Linked DNA regions of Homo sapiens. The protein of the gene in region 1 interacts with the protein of each later gene in a biochemical or structural test. Each region holds a gene or a part of one and is shown in the gene's direction. Other genes may lie near its edges.

Region 1 (6,781 bases):
GGTTACCAGAGACCACGGTGGTCTACCCTGCGGACGTGGTTCTGTTTGAGGGCATCTTGGTGTTCTACAGCCAGGAGATCCGGGACATGTTCCACCTGCGCCTCTTCGTGGACACCGACTCCGACGTCAGGCTGTCTCGAAGAGGTAAGGCGGCCGCGGGCCTCCGTGCCTGCCTGGCCGAGGCTGGCGGCAGGTCCTGAGGTCTGAAGCACGCCTGCCCCTTGCCGCTGCAGTTCTCCGGGACGTGCGCCGAGGGAGGGACCTGGAGCAGATTCTGACGCAGTACACCACCTTCGTGAAGCCGGCCTTCGAGGAGTTCTGCCTGCCGGTACCTGTGCTCGCTGCTTCAGAGCCCATTTTCCCCTTTCACAAGGACACATGGGACCCAGTACTGTGAGAGGGCTTAGTGCTGGGTGACAGTGATCTGATTGAAAAAAAGGAGAAGAATTTGGCTCATTATGGCCACATACCCTGGGAGTAGTTCTCAGCTGTAAAAACATTCTCTGTGCCTGCTCCTCCCTCTGCCTAAAAAAGCCCCATATCTCCCCCACATTCACACTGGCCGCTTCCTCCCTGCCTCAGGCCCTTGCCCAGCGTCCCCATTCAACACTGAAAACCCTCTGCACCCAGCGCCAGCCTCTCTGCCTGCTTCCTTTTTCCGGGGCACTTACCATCATCTGACACGTCCTGGGTGCTTATTCCCCGCAGAGTGGGGAAGCCCAGGAGCACTTTAGTCTGTTCACTGCCAAGGCCGGGATCTGGCCCTCAGAAGGTGCTTCAGAGCTGCTCCTCCAGGGTCTGTGACCCCAGGCTGCTCTGGGCCAGTGCTCTGAAATCTTGGAGTGAGCGCTGTGCCCAGATCCCAGCTGGCTCGCAGAGAGCAGGAACTCCCCGCTGCACACCCACCTGTCTTTTCTCCATTTCTCCATCTTGTGTTTCTGGCTTGGTGGGACTCGTGGCTCTACTCAAATGGGAGTGTTTTGCACGGGAACATTTTGCCTGTTAAGGTAAAAATACAGCACAAAGGAACTGAAACCAAGATTCCTGCCTTTGATAATGTAGGACAAGTAAGTTCTATCTGCTGCTTTTTTTTTTTTTGAGATAGGGTCTCTTTTTGTCGTCTAGGGTGGAGTGCAATGGCACGATCTCGGCTCACTCCAAACTCCACCTCCCAAGTTTAAGCAATTCTCCTGTCTCACCCTTCCGAGTAGCTGGGATTACAGGCGTACGCCACCACACCCAGCTAATTTTTGTATTTTTAGTGGAGATGGGGTTTTGCCATGTTGGCTGGGCTGGTCTCGAACTCCTGGACTCAAGTGACCCACCCACTTTGGCCTCCCAAAATGCTGGGATTGAGCCACTGTGCCTGGCCTTTTTTTAAATTTTATTTTTAATGAGGCAGAGTCTTGCTCTGTTGCCCAGGCTGGAGTACAGTGGTGCAATCACAGCTCACTGCAGTCTTGACCTCCTAAGCTCAAGCGATCCTTCCACCTCAGCAACCCGAGTAGCTGGGCCCACAGGCGTGCACCACCATGCTCGGTTAATTTTTAAATTTTTTGTAGAGATGGGGTCTCCCTGTGTTGCCCAGGCTGGTCTCCATCTCCTGGGATCTAGTGGTCCTCCCACCTCAGCTTCCCAAAGTGCTGAGATTACAGGTGTGAGCCACTATGCCTGGCCTATTGGCTGCTATATAAAGAAAACTTTTGTTTTTTTTTGCATTCATGCTGTCTGAAATTTCTAAAATATAATTTTAAAAGTAAAGTTAACTTGTTTTAGTCTCTCATTCACAGAAAGATATTTGGCAAAAAGTAGGTGATTCGCAGTAAAACTCTGGATATCAAATCTGCCTCAGCGACCTGAGTAGAGGAAGTGCTGTCACCTGCTATGTTCTGGGCCCAGGCCCCAGAGATGTTTTTGGTTGGTTTGTTTGCTTGCTTGTTTTTTGAGACAGGGTCTCCCTCTGCCACCCAGGCCCAAGTGCAGTGGTGAGATCTTGCTTCACTGCAGCCTCCACCTTCCACTCTCAAGTGATCCTCCCACCTCAGGCTCCTGAGTAGCCAGAGACTACAGGCACGCACCACCACGCCTGGCTAATTTTTCCTTTTTTTTTTTTTTTTGCACAGACGGGGTTTTGCCATGTTGGCTGGGCTGGTCTCAAACTCCTGGCCTCAAGCAGTCCACCCACCTCAGCCTCCCAAAGTGCTGGGATCACCGGCGTGAGCCACCGCACCCGGCCCCAGCCCCACCCAGAGCCGTTCTTGAGCCTCCTTTTCCTTCACCTTCATGTTGAGTGGCTTGTGCAGTCCTCTGCCTGGACCCCGTAGGTATTTCCCAACTGTATTCAGGCCCATCCCTGCTGGCGGTTAAGACCCCTGTCAGCTCTCCCGGACTCCTCCAGCCCGTCAGACTATCAGACTAGAATAGAAAGCAGCCCTCGCCCTTGCGCTCGTGCTTTCATGAGATGGGGTCCCACCAACTGCAGACACAGCTGTCCCCAGGACTTGGTCCCTGTCTGCCTCTTGCAGCTTGTCTCTTCTGCCGCCTTCTTGACCCAAATCCACACGCCAGCAGCACGCACCGTTCCAAGTTCCGTCCTTCGGCCCAGACCCTGCCCTCCCTCTTCCCTCAGCTTTGTCTGATTCAGCCATGTTCTCCAGGCTGCTTCCCCTTCCCTAAAGCCACCCCCCAACCCCCACCATCTGGCTGCGGACCCTCCCCAGCAGCCCTGCATTTCCTGATATATCTCCATCCTTGTCCTTCCTCAGCAGCAGAGCATCTGACAGGGAATGAGAGTCAGCATTGAGCCAATGAGTGGTTGGATGAGGGAGTAAGTTACCATCAGCGTCTCTGCCTGCAGTAATTATGCACGGCGGCGGCTGTCCTGTTGCTGTGCCAGGGTATTTGCAGAAGCTTCATGATTCCAGAGGAACAATGTCACACTTTGTAGAAGTGCCACACTTAGCTTGGCCCAGTGAATTGAGTCGTTAGCGTAGCCAGCTGTCTCCTGTAATGGAGTGGGAACACTGGAAGGGGGCTGTCTTCTGTGATGGAATGGGGACACTGGAAGAGGCACTTTCTTTTGGCTGCCTCAGCTGCACTTTCTGCCTCACTTCTTGGATCATGGCCTCTCACACCTGGCTGATGACTGAGTCTGTGTCCCCCATTTGCCGATGACACCAGCACCTCTGAGCACCCCAGGGCCGCCCCTCCTGCTGTTGCATCTGTTTCTGAGCATCTTAAAATCACCTTTGAAGGAAAAGTCCTCACAGGAACACCCCCCCTTGTGCCTTACAGACAAAGAAGTATGCCGATGTGATCATCCCGCGAGGAGTGGACAATATGGGTAAGAAGCTGGCCTGCTGGGCTGTCCCCCCGCCCCTCCCAGAGCTTGAGGCAGGGACAGTTCCACCAGTGTGCAGTTACTGAGCACTCCCCTGCGCACGCGGCCTGCCAGTGTTGATCTGCGGCACAGGGTTAAAATATGCTTAAAAATGTATGTAGCTGGGCGCGGTGCCTCACACTGGTAATCCCAGCACTTTGGGAGGCTGAGGCAGGGGGATCACTGGAGCCCAGGAGTTCAACAGCCTGGGGAACATAGCAAAACCCCATCTCTACAAAAAATAAAATTATTTGGGCATGGTGGCATGTGCCTCTGGTCCCAGCTACTCAGGAGGCTGAGGTGGGAGGATTGCTTGAGCCTGGGAGGTTGAGGCTGCAGTGAGCTGTGATTGGGCCACTGCACTCCAGCCTAGGCAGTAAAGTAAGAACCTGTTTCTTAAAACATATATATATGTATATTCAAATCTGTTAGCAGAAAGTACTTTAAGCAGACTCTAACATAAATTCCTGGAAGACCAAGCTAAGAAGTCTTATTTTGCTGTGTCCTGATGCATGTTTCTGTCTGCTGAGATTTGACTCGATGCCCCTCGCCGCAGGCTGTGCCTCAGGGCAGAGGTTGGGCGCTCACTCCTGGCCGAGTGCTGCGGGGAGGGGCGGTCTCCACGGAGGATGGATGCGGCTAACCCGCTGCTTGTCTGTCTCTTGGCGCAGTTGCCATCAACCTGATCGTGCAGCACATCCAGGACATTCTGAATGGTGACATCTGCAAATGGCACCGAGGAGGGTCCAATGGGCGGAGCTACAAGCGGACCTTTTCTGAGCCAGGGGACCACCCTGGGATGCTGACCTCTGGCAAACGGTCACATTTGGAGTCCAGCAGCAGACCCCACTGAGGGGCTGCCGAGCCTCAGGGCAGGTCTCCCGCCCGGCATGTGTGTTCAGGGACTGAGCCTGGGGACGCCCACCCACACCCACTGCTTCCTCTCGGCGCACCCCAGGGGAGTGTTAGCAGCGAGGCCTTCCTCACTCAGGAGTGGAAACTCAGATGTGTCACTCAGACTCAACTTGCTGGGACACTGACAGGCGTTCCTGAGGTTTTCAGCCACTTAGGCTCGTTGCGGTTTAAAGATCCCTCTAGGTCACTGAGAAATGCCACAGAATGTGCAGGAAGCCTGGGAGGCTTCTGTGAGGAATGTGAGGCACATTATTGGGGAAATTGAGGAGACAGCCTAGACACTGGCTGGCCTGATGTTTTGTTGACAGTGAACCCACAGTGGGAGAGAGTTTTTTCCAGTCTGATCTGGTTCTTACACACTCACACACATAACTCAAAAGTTTTGTGAACAAGTACTTTCCTTTTTTACATGTTACATGTCCTCATGTTTTCTGTTTTCTGTTTCATAACACAAGGCTGGTTGTGGCCTACAAACCTAATTTCATGACCCAGTGGTTTGCAGTCCAGCGTGGCCTACACGGATATGGGGAGCCACTGAGGGATGTTTTCCCCCCTTGCTTGTGCCTTAAAGGCAGAGAAGCGAGGCGGATGCCCTGGAAGCACCCAGCATCACACCCAGGCTTGTGCGGGGCCAGGCTGGGAGCCCATGCAGTAGGGCAGAAGGCAGCGGAGGCCAGGTCTGTCCCGGCTGGAGAACAGCGTCCACGCAGTCCTGCCTGGGGTCAGGCCCTCACTGACCCTCAGGGGAGCCCCCAAGGTGCTGTCTGTCTAGACAGGCTGTCCCACCCCAGGGTGGCTAGTGGCCATATGCAGGGAATGGTGCTTCTGGCTGTGGCACGCACTGGATCACCCAGGTCCCAGCAGACATGGCCGCCCAAAGTCAGCAAGCCTCCTTTGTGCTATGTGGAGCTCACAGCCTCACATGTGAACACCCGTGTCTGGGTTGCCTGGGGTGATCCTCCCTCCTGCGTGGTGGCTGTCTCTGGAAAGCATCCCTTGCCGCTGCCATGGGCAGCCCCAGCCCCCGTCCGTCCAGGCTCACCCACAGTAGTGATGCAGACGTGACGTGGGGGAAGGGGGCTGAGCCCTGTGGCTGGGTTCTGACAACTGTAACGGTTTTGTCGAGCTTAGGCCCCTTTGGAGGGAGAATCAATAAATAACAAACACCAACTACAAACGCCAGTTGGTTCCTTTTTTAATTACATTTAAAAAAGACAAAGGCATGGAGCTGTATGGATGACACACCTTGACCACTGACGAGGAAGATTTCACTCAGCCACGTCTCAGTGGAGTCTCAGAGGGGAGGGTTTCCACACAGCACGGTGCCAAGGGCCAGTCTTGACGCTGTCATAGACAATGACATGCAAGCCCCAGCCCTGGCTCGTGGTTCAGGTGGCCCTCCAACACTGAGCTGTCCCAGGACGCCTGCCGGGCTCGCTGAGGGCAGGGCCGGGACTTGCTCAGGTTGCTGGGTGTTCATGAAGGAGGATCGGGTCTGCCAGATCAAACTCCACCCTGCAGCAGTTAGCAAGGACCAGGCCCTGGTCTGCTGAGGCTCCACTGCTGGCCCTGGGTTCTCGGCTTTTTGTTGTCAATGACTCCTACGCTGGCCTCTGAAATACTCCCTGTGTCTTAGTTCAGGGGTAAAGACACGGAATATCTTTATTGTCGAGAAAAAATTAACTTTGCACAAAAGGAGGTGCTCATCAGAGAGCTTTTCAATGAGACCCCCATGTGTTCCACTAGAGGCCCTGCTCAGCCCAGCCCGTGTCCTCCCAGCGTGGGGCCCACCCTGCTCATTACGTACATTGACCAAGACCCTTCAACCTCATCCCGACCCCAGCACGGGTGTTCTTTGCCACACTCTTGTTCTAGTGTTTTCGGATCAAGATGTCCCAGCTGTCTTTCCAGCGAAGGGCCTTGAGTTCATGTGGCGAGAGTGACTTGTCCCCGTAGGTGAGTGGGCGCAGCGTGTTGGACACGTGGCACGCGGAGGAGTACCAGGCCACCACCAGGGCGCTGAAGATGCTCCTCTGGAGCTGGGACCTGCAGAGGTCAGAGCAGCGTGGGGGAGGGTGGCTGACCACTGCGGCTTCCCTGCCCGGCACCCTCTTGGCATCTGCTGTCCACACGGTCACCCCCCGAGGCCTGGGGTTCTGCCTTCAGGTTTCTGTGTCTTGTCTCCTGCCACCCATGACCATCTCCCACCTGGATGCACTGAGAGGGGCCCCCTGATGACTCCTCAGGCCTCCACAGTGGCTGGGCCACCTCCACACAGATGCCAGAGGACTGGTCCCAAACCCACGGTCCTCCCTTGTGTGGCTTCCTGAAACCGGGAGGCCCTCGCCCTCTGCTCCAACCTCCAAACACACTCTGGTTTAGAAGCTTTCTTGGGTTCTCTCCACCACACCACACAACCCGACCATAACCAGCTGCCGTTTCTGACACCCCAGGCTCCTGGGCCTTGCTCCCTGCTCCCGAATCCTC
Region 2 (5,605 bases), on another chromosome or scaffold:
TCATTCTTCTTCAATGATAACTGATAGAAGTTAAGATGAGAATCAGTCATCCCTCTGTGTGCCCTTCATGTATGCCTGCATTATAGATTTTATCACATTGCTTTCCTACTAGGTTGTAAATTCCTTGAGCTCAGATCCTTTTCTCACTCAGCCATTTCCTCTGTGCCTGTCATGTAGGAACCATGTAATAAATGTGTGTGGAAGGAATGCAGCATTTTTTCCATGTTCACATTTAAGCTGGTAGACTTAAAGTTTTAGTGACTTCTGACACTCCATTTTTTTAAAATAAAGGTAGGAACTGTAAGAATTGGTCCTGCTGTTCTGATAACATCATTGTCACATACTAGTGAAGACTAACTCTCTCCTGGCCTGATTTGCACTGTATAACTACATGGAAAGGCAGACCTACATCCCCTTGCCTCCCCAGGGGTTTATGTGATGTGTGTCCTTTGGAGAACTGTAAAGGGGTGGCCTGCCTTCAGAGTGTGGGCTTGTGTGTGTTTTCACCAATACCCAGCAAATTTGCCCTTCACAGAAGTCAGGCCAATATTTCTACCACTGCCTTTACCTTGTTCATACCGAATGGGTGAGATTAAGTCATGACATATACTCAATAGCTTTATTTTCTGATTTATACTTTGACATCTGTATTAGTTATAGGTGTGGCAGGGCCACTTTGAAGCTGAAAAGGGATCTTGTTGGTTTGATGGATCTGAATTTTATTAGAGCCATGTTTTTATATTTTAAATCACCAAATAGATTGACATTTTGAATATCCTACTCAGCTTCTGAAGTAATGCAATTATAGGGATTTAGACTCTTTCCATTATTGAGTCCCAACCCCTAGTGTGCATCAGAATCATATAGGGAGCTTTCAGACAGTCGTGAAGCTCAGGCCTCTCCCTAGCAATTAAACCAGAATCCCTGGGAAGGGCCCTGGGCATCAGTGTGTCTTCTGCAGGTGATTCTGATGCTCAGAGGAGATAGACAACCAGTGAACAGGTCTTTGGTTGAAACAGGTGTTAAGCATGACCTTGACTTACAAGTTTAGGCCAATGGGTCATAAACTTTACAGCATTAGAATCACTTTGGGAGCTTTCATAAAATCCCAGTGTCCCGGTCATCTAAACACTAATTAAATCAGCTTATCAGAAGTGGGAACCAGGCATCAGTAGTTTTTAAAGATCCCTAAGTACATCCAATGTGCAGTAAAGTTTGGGAACCACTTGTTTAGACTGTTATTAAAGAGATATTTATCTTTTTCAGACTCTTCCCCACCTAATTCTACCTTTTATCTGTAGGAGCTGAATGCCAAAGCAGCTTCTCTTTTTGAAACAAATGATGATCACTCCGTAACTGAGGGCATTAATGTGATGAATGAACTGATCATCCCCTGCATTCACCTTATCATTAATAATGACATTTCCAAGGATGATCTGGATGCCATTGAGGTCATGAGAAACCATTGGTGCTCTTACCTTGGGCAAGATATTGCAGGTATATGCTCTTGGTAATAATATTCTGAGGTTTTGAGAATTGTAGAAATTTCAGTGTTCTCACTTGATAGCACTGGTTGCCAAACCTTTTTAAGGAATTGGAACCTTCTAGCATATAAGTAAATTAAAAATGGATCTGCTCTATTGAAACAAGAGGAGGGAGCCTGGGCCTCTGCCCCTCTTAACCTCCCTTTAGCTTCCCCATGACTGCCAAATCACCTCCATGGGCAACCAACAAGCCTGGTTTGAAAAAAGTCACTGCTCTCCAGGAATGTCAGACTTCCATTACTCTCTCATGTGCCAAAAGATGAACTCTTTTATAGTTTAAAAATCAAAATCTGACTGGGTGCAGTGGCTCACACCTGTAATCCCAGCACTTTCAGAGGCCGAGGTGGGCAGATCACCTGAGGCCAGGAGTTCAAGACCAAGTCTGGCCAACAAGGCGAAACCCCATCTCTACTAAAAATACAAAAATTAGCTAGGTGTGGTCATGGGCGCCTGTAATCCCAGCTACTCGGGAGGCTGAGGCAGGAGAATCACTTGAACCTGGGCAGCGGAGTTTGCAATGAGCCGAGATAGCACCAGTGCAATCCAGCCTGGGCCACGGAATGAGACTCCATATCCAAAAAAAAAAAAAAAAAATCATGCAGAGTATGGTTATGGGAGGGGTGCCTTGATGAATTTTTTCTGTGGCTTGAAGTTATATAGCATATTAACTATGATGACTTCAAGATTAATTAGTGGACTGTCCTTGCTTGTTTAAAGCATCTTAAGGAGGGAATGTAAAGCTGGTTGTTTTTAGGTGAGTTCAGTAGACTTGGAAAATTGTTATATATTCTGATATGAATCCTCTTTGTTAGGTTCTCACTGACATAGAGATACTCTATTGATGGGGCTAGGCACAGTGGCTGACACTTGTAGTCCCAGCACTTTGGGAGGCCAAGGTGGGTGGCTCACTTGAGCCCAGGAGTTTGAGACCAGCCTGGGCAACATAGTGAGACCCTGCCTCTACAAAAAATGAAAACTTAGCTGGGTATAGTGTAGTTCTAGCTACTCAGGAGCCTGAGGTGAGAGGATTGCTTGAGTCTGGGAGGCCGAGGCTACAGTGACCCAAGATCATACCACTGCACTCCAGCTTGGAGTGAGACCCTATCTTTAAAAAACAAACAAAACAAAAAAGGCCGGGCGCAGTGGCTCACGCCTGTAGTCCCAGCGCTTTGGGAGGCTGAGGTGGGCGGATCACGAGGTCAGGAGATGGAGACCATCCTGGCTCACATGGTGAAACCCCGTCTCTACTAAAAATACAAAAAATTAGCCGGGTGTGGTGGCGGGCACCTGTAGTCCCAGCTACTTGGGAGGCTGAGGCAGGAGAATGGCGTGAACCCGGGAGGCGGAGCTTGCAGTGAGCAAAGATGGCGCCACTGCACTCCAGCCTGGGCGACAGAGTGAGACTCCGTCTCAAAAAAAAAAAAAGATATTCCATTGACTTGTTCAAGTGTTTAAGTTGATAGTATTTATTTAAAAATCCTGTAATAGCTAGTTGCCATGTGTTTCCCTTTACTGTCTTCAGTTTTTATTTAGACCAAGCTTGTCCAACCTGAAGCCCAACACAAATTTCTAAACTTTCTTAAAACATTATGAATTTTTTTTTAACCTCATCAGCTATTGTTAGTGAGGTTCATGTGTGGCCCAGGGAAGCCAAAAGACTGTACACCCCTGATTTAAAACCATGTGTATACACTGATATATTGTAAACATTTGAAAGAAAATAATTACCATCATATCTATGCTAGAGTATCATATCTACTTCCTTGTATTTTAAGAAGACAATTGGTTAGAAGACCCTTTCGTAATAAAGTAATTATATAGTTGTTATATAGCAGTGAGCTAAAGTTTGGTTTATTTGCCTTTGCTCCTGGTTTGGCCTGAAGGAATAATCATTTATTAGTAACTGGCCAGCATAATGCTTTGACCTTTGAGGTTAGGTAAGGGGCTAATAGAAGGCTTGTTCACTTTTACTCAGAAATCTGTTTAGCTGTATATGTAACCATCTGTTTTCCCTCCACAGAAAATCTGCAGCTGTGCCTAGGGGAGTTTCTACCCAGACTTCTAGATCCTTCTGCAGAAATCATCGTCTTGAAAGAGCCTCCAACTATTCGACCCAATTCTCCCTATGACCTATGTAGCCGATTTGCAGCTGTCATGGAGTCAATTCAGGGAGTTTCAACTGTGACAGTGAAATAAGCTCCCACATGTTCAAGGCCCATTCTGGTTCCTGGCTGCCTGCCTCTTGCACAGAAGTTCGTTGTCATAGTGCTCACCTTGGGAAAAGGATTAGGTGGGCACATAAGATTCCGATCAGACCCCAACCATGCTGCATGTGTAAAGAAGGATTGAAAATAAAATTGCACTTTTTAGGTACAAAATCATAAAAGCTGTTTCACTAGAAAAGGCAGAAAGCAGTGTATTAAGGTGTTGAATTACGCCAGAAGACCTGAAATGCCTTGTACCTACAACAATGCTTAGGCTTTTCTAAGCCTCTTGCCACTTTTAAAATTATCCTTCAGGCATAAATATTTTTGACAGCAGAATAGAAGAATGATTCATGAGAACCTGAACCAGATGAACAGCTACTAGTTATTTTATCAAATACAGATGACATTTAAAAATTCTTAACTACAAGAGATTAGAAATATAAACCTTGCCTGGCTCTTGCCAGGAGATAACAAAATGGGTTGCTGATGAACTGCACCCTTTTACATGTGGGTAGAATATAAGCTCACATGGCAGTGAGATGTTGAAAAGTCAAAAGAGACCTGTCTCTCTCCTTTCTTTTCTATCTTTAAACCAGAAAACCTCATACTCAGTCCTCAGTGAAAGAAAGTAAAGTATTAAGGACTTTAGACAGAAGAGCATTGTGTAACTTGACTGAAGATCATCCATTAATAGTTATTAGGCATTTAGGTAAAATTTTCTAATACCTAAAAATTGTCAAAAACAGTCAATAGGGCTACTGCTGGCCCAAAGACCATTTAGGTCCACCTCCTCTTTTTTGCTCTTTTTTTTTTTCTGTGACAGTTTCACTGTGTCGCCCAGGCTGGCGTTCAGTGGTGCAATCTCAGCTCACTGCAAACTCTGTCTCCTGGGCTCAAGTGATTCTCGTGCCTCAGCCTCCCGAATAGCTGGAATTACGGGCATGCACCACCACACCTGGCTAATTTTTGTATTTTTAATAGAGATGGGGTTTCACCATATTGGCCAGGCTGATCTCTAACTCCTGGCCTCAAGTGATCTATCTGCCTCCCTCAGCCTCCCAAAGTCTGGGATTGCAGACAAGTCATCGTACCCGGCCTTCTTTTTTGCCCTTAAAAGTAAGGGATGTGGGTTTGTACAAAAAAAAAAAAAAAAAAAAAAAAACCAGCATACATATGCAAAACTATATATATATGTATATGTAGAGAAAAATACTTCCCATTGATCATTTTTAAAAGGCTTCTGATTGGATATTGTGTTTTAACCAAATTTTAAAGATTAATGGAATCATGAAAGGGAAAAAAATTGATACAACTATGCAGATTTTATAAATGTGCAATAAAAGTATTTGTTTTACCTTTGGTGTGCAGTATGGTCTTTATTTAAATATATATTTTCCATTTGGGAAATGGACATACTTGGTATTTGTCTTGTTCCAATTTTTCTTCTTTAAAACCAAAAAGCAGATTAGAGGGTTGATAAACTGGATGGGGACTGACGCGCCAGTGTTTGAAATAAAAGGCAACAGTCAATTATTGAGCAGCACCTAGTGGTAACTGAAGCTTTTTAATCTCATTGGCTATTTGCATTGCATGTAAGCTTATCTACTTTGTCAAATTTTTGAATGCAAAAACAGCAATTTTCTTAGAATGGAGTTTCTTATGTAGTCATTCCTCAGCAGACACCGGCAATTGCTGGGACCCCTGCATATACCAAAATCCATGCATACTCAAATTCTGTAGTTGGCTTTGCAGAACCCACATATAGGAAAAGTTGACCCTCCATACACTTGGGTTTTCACATGCTGTGAATACTCTATTTTCAATCTGCATTTGGTTGAAAAAAATCCTCATGGG

Evidence for each region.
Region 2: of the proteins of UCK1 (region 1) and USP28, one has a biochemical effect on the other in vitro, tested with the Homo sapiens proteins (one study listed by BioGRID).

Annotation. Positions count from the first base shown.
Region 1 is NC_000009.12:131,522,491-131,529,271, reverse strand, and holds the end of UCK1 (uridine-cytidine kinase 1), read left to right. Parts: intron 1-1; coding exon 2-144; intron 145-233; coding exon 234-328; intron 329-2,768; exon of another isoform or gene 2,769-2,827; intron 2,828-3,294; coding exon 3,295-3,343; intron 3,344-4,050; coding exon 4,051-4,232; 3' UTR 4,233-5,471; downstream 5,472-6,781. Other genes in the region: POMT1 (protein O-mannosyl-transferase 1), read right to left, coding at 6,166-6,340. UniProt on the Homo sapiens protein: Phosphorylates uridine and cytidine to uridine monophosphate and cytidine monophosphate. Does not phosphorylate deoxyribonucleosides or purine ribonucleosides. Can use ATP or GTP as a phosphate donor.
Region 2 is NC_000011.10:113,797,375-113,802,979, reverse strand, and holds the end of USP28 (ubiquitin carboxyl-terminal hydrolase 28), read left to right. Parts: intron 1-1,301; coding exon 1,302-1,497; intron 1,498-3,564; coding exon 3,565-3,740; 3' UTR 3,741-5,105; downstream 5,106-5,605. UniProt on the Homo sapiens protein: Deubiquitinase involved in DNA damage response checkpoint and MYC proto-oncogene stability. Involved in DNA damage induced apoptosis by specifically deubiquitinating proteins of the DNA damage pathway such as CLSPN.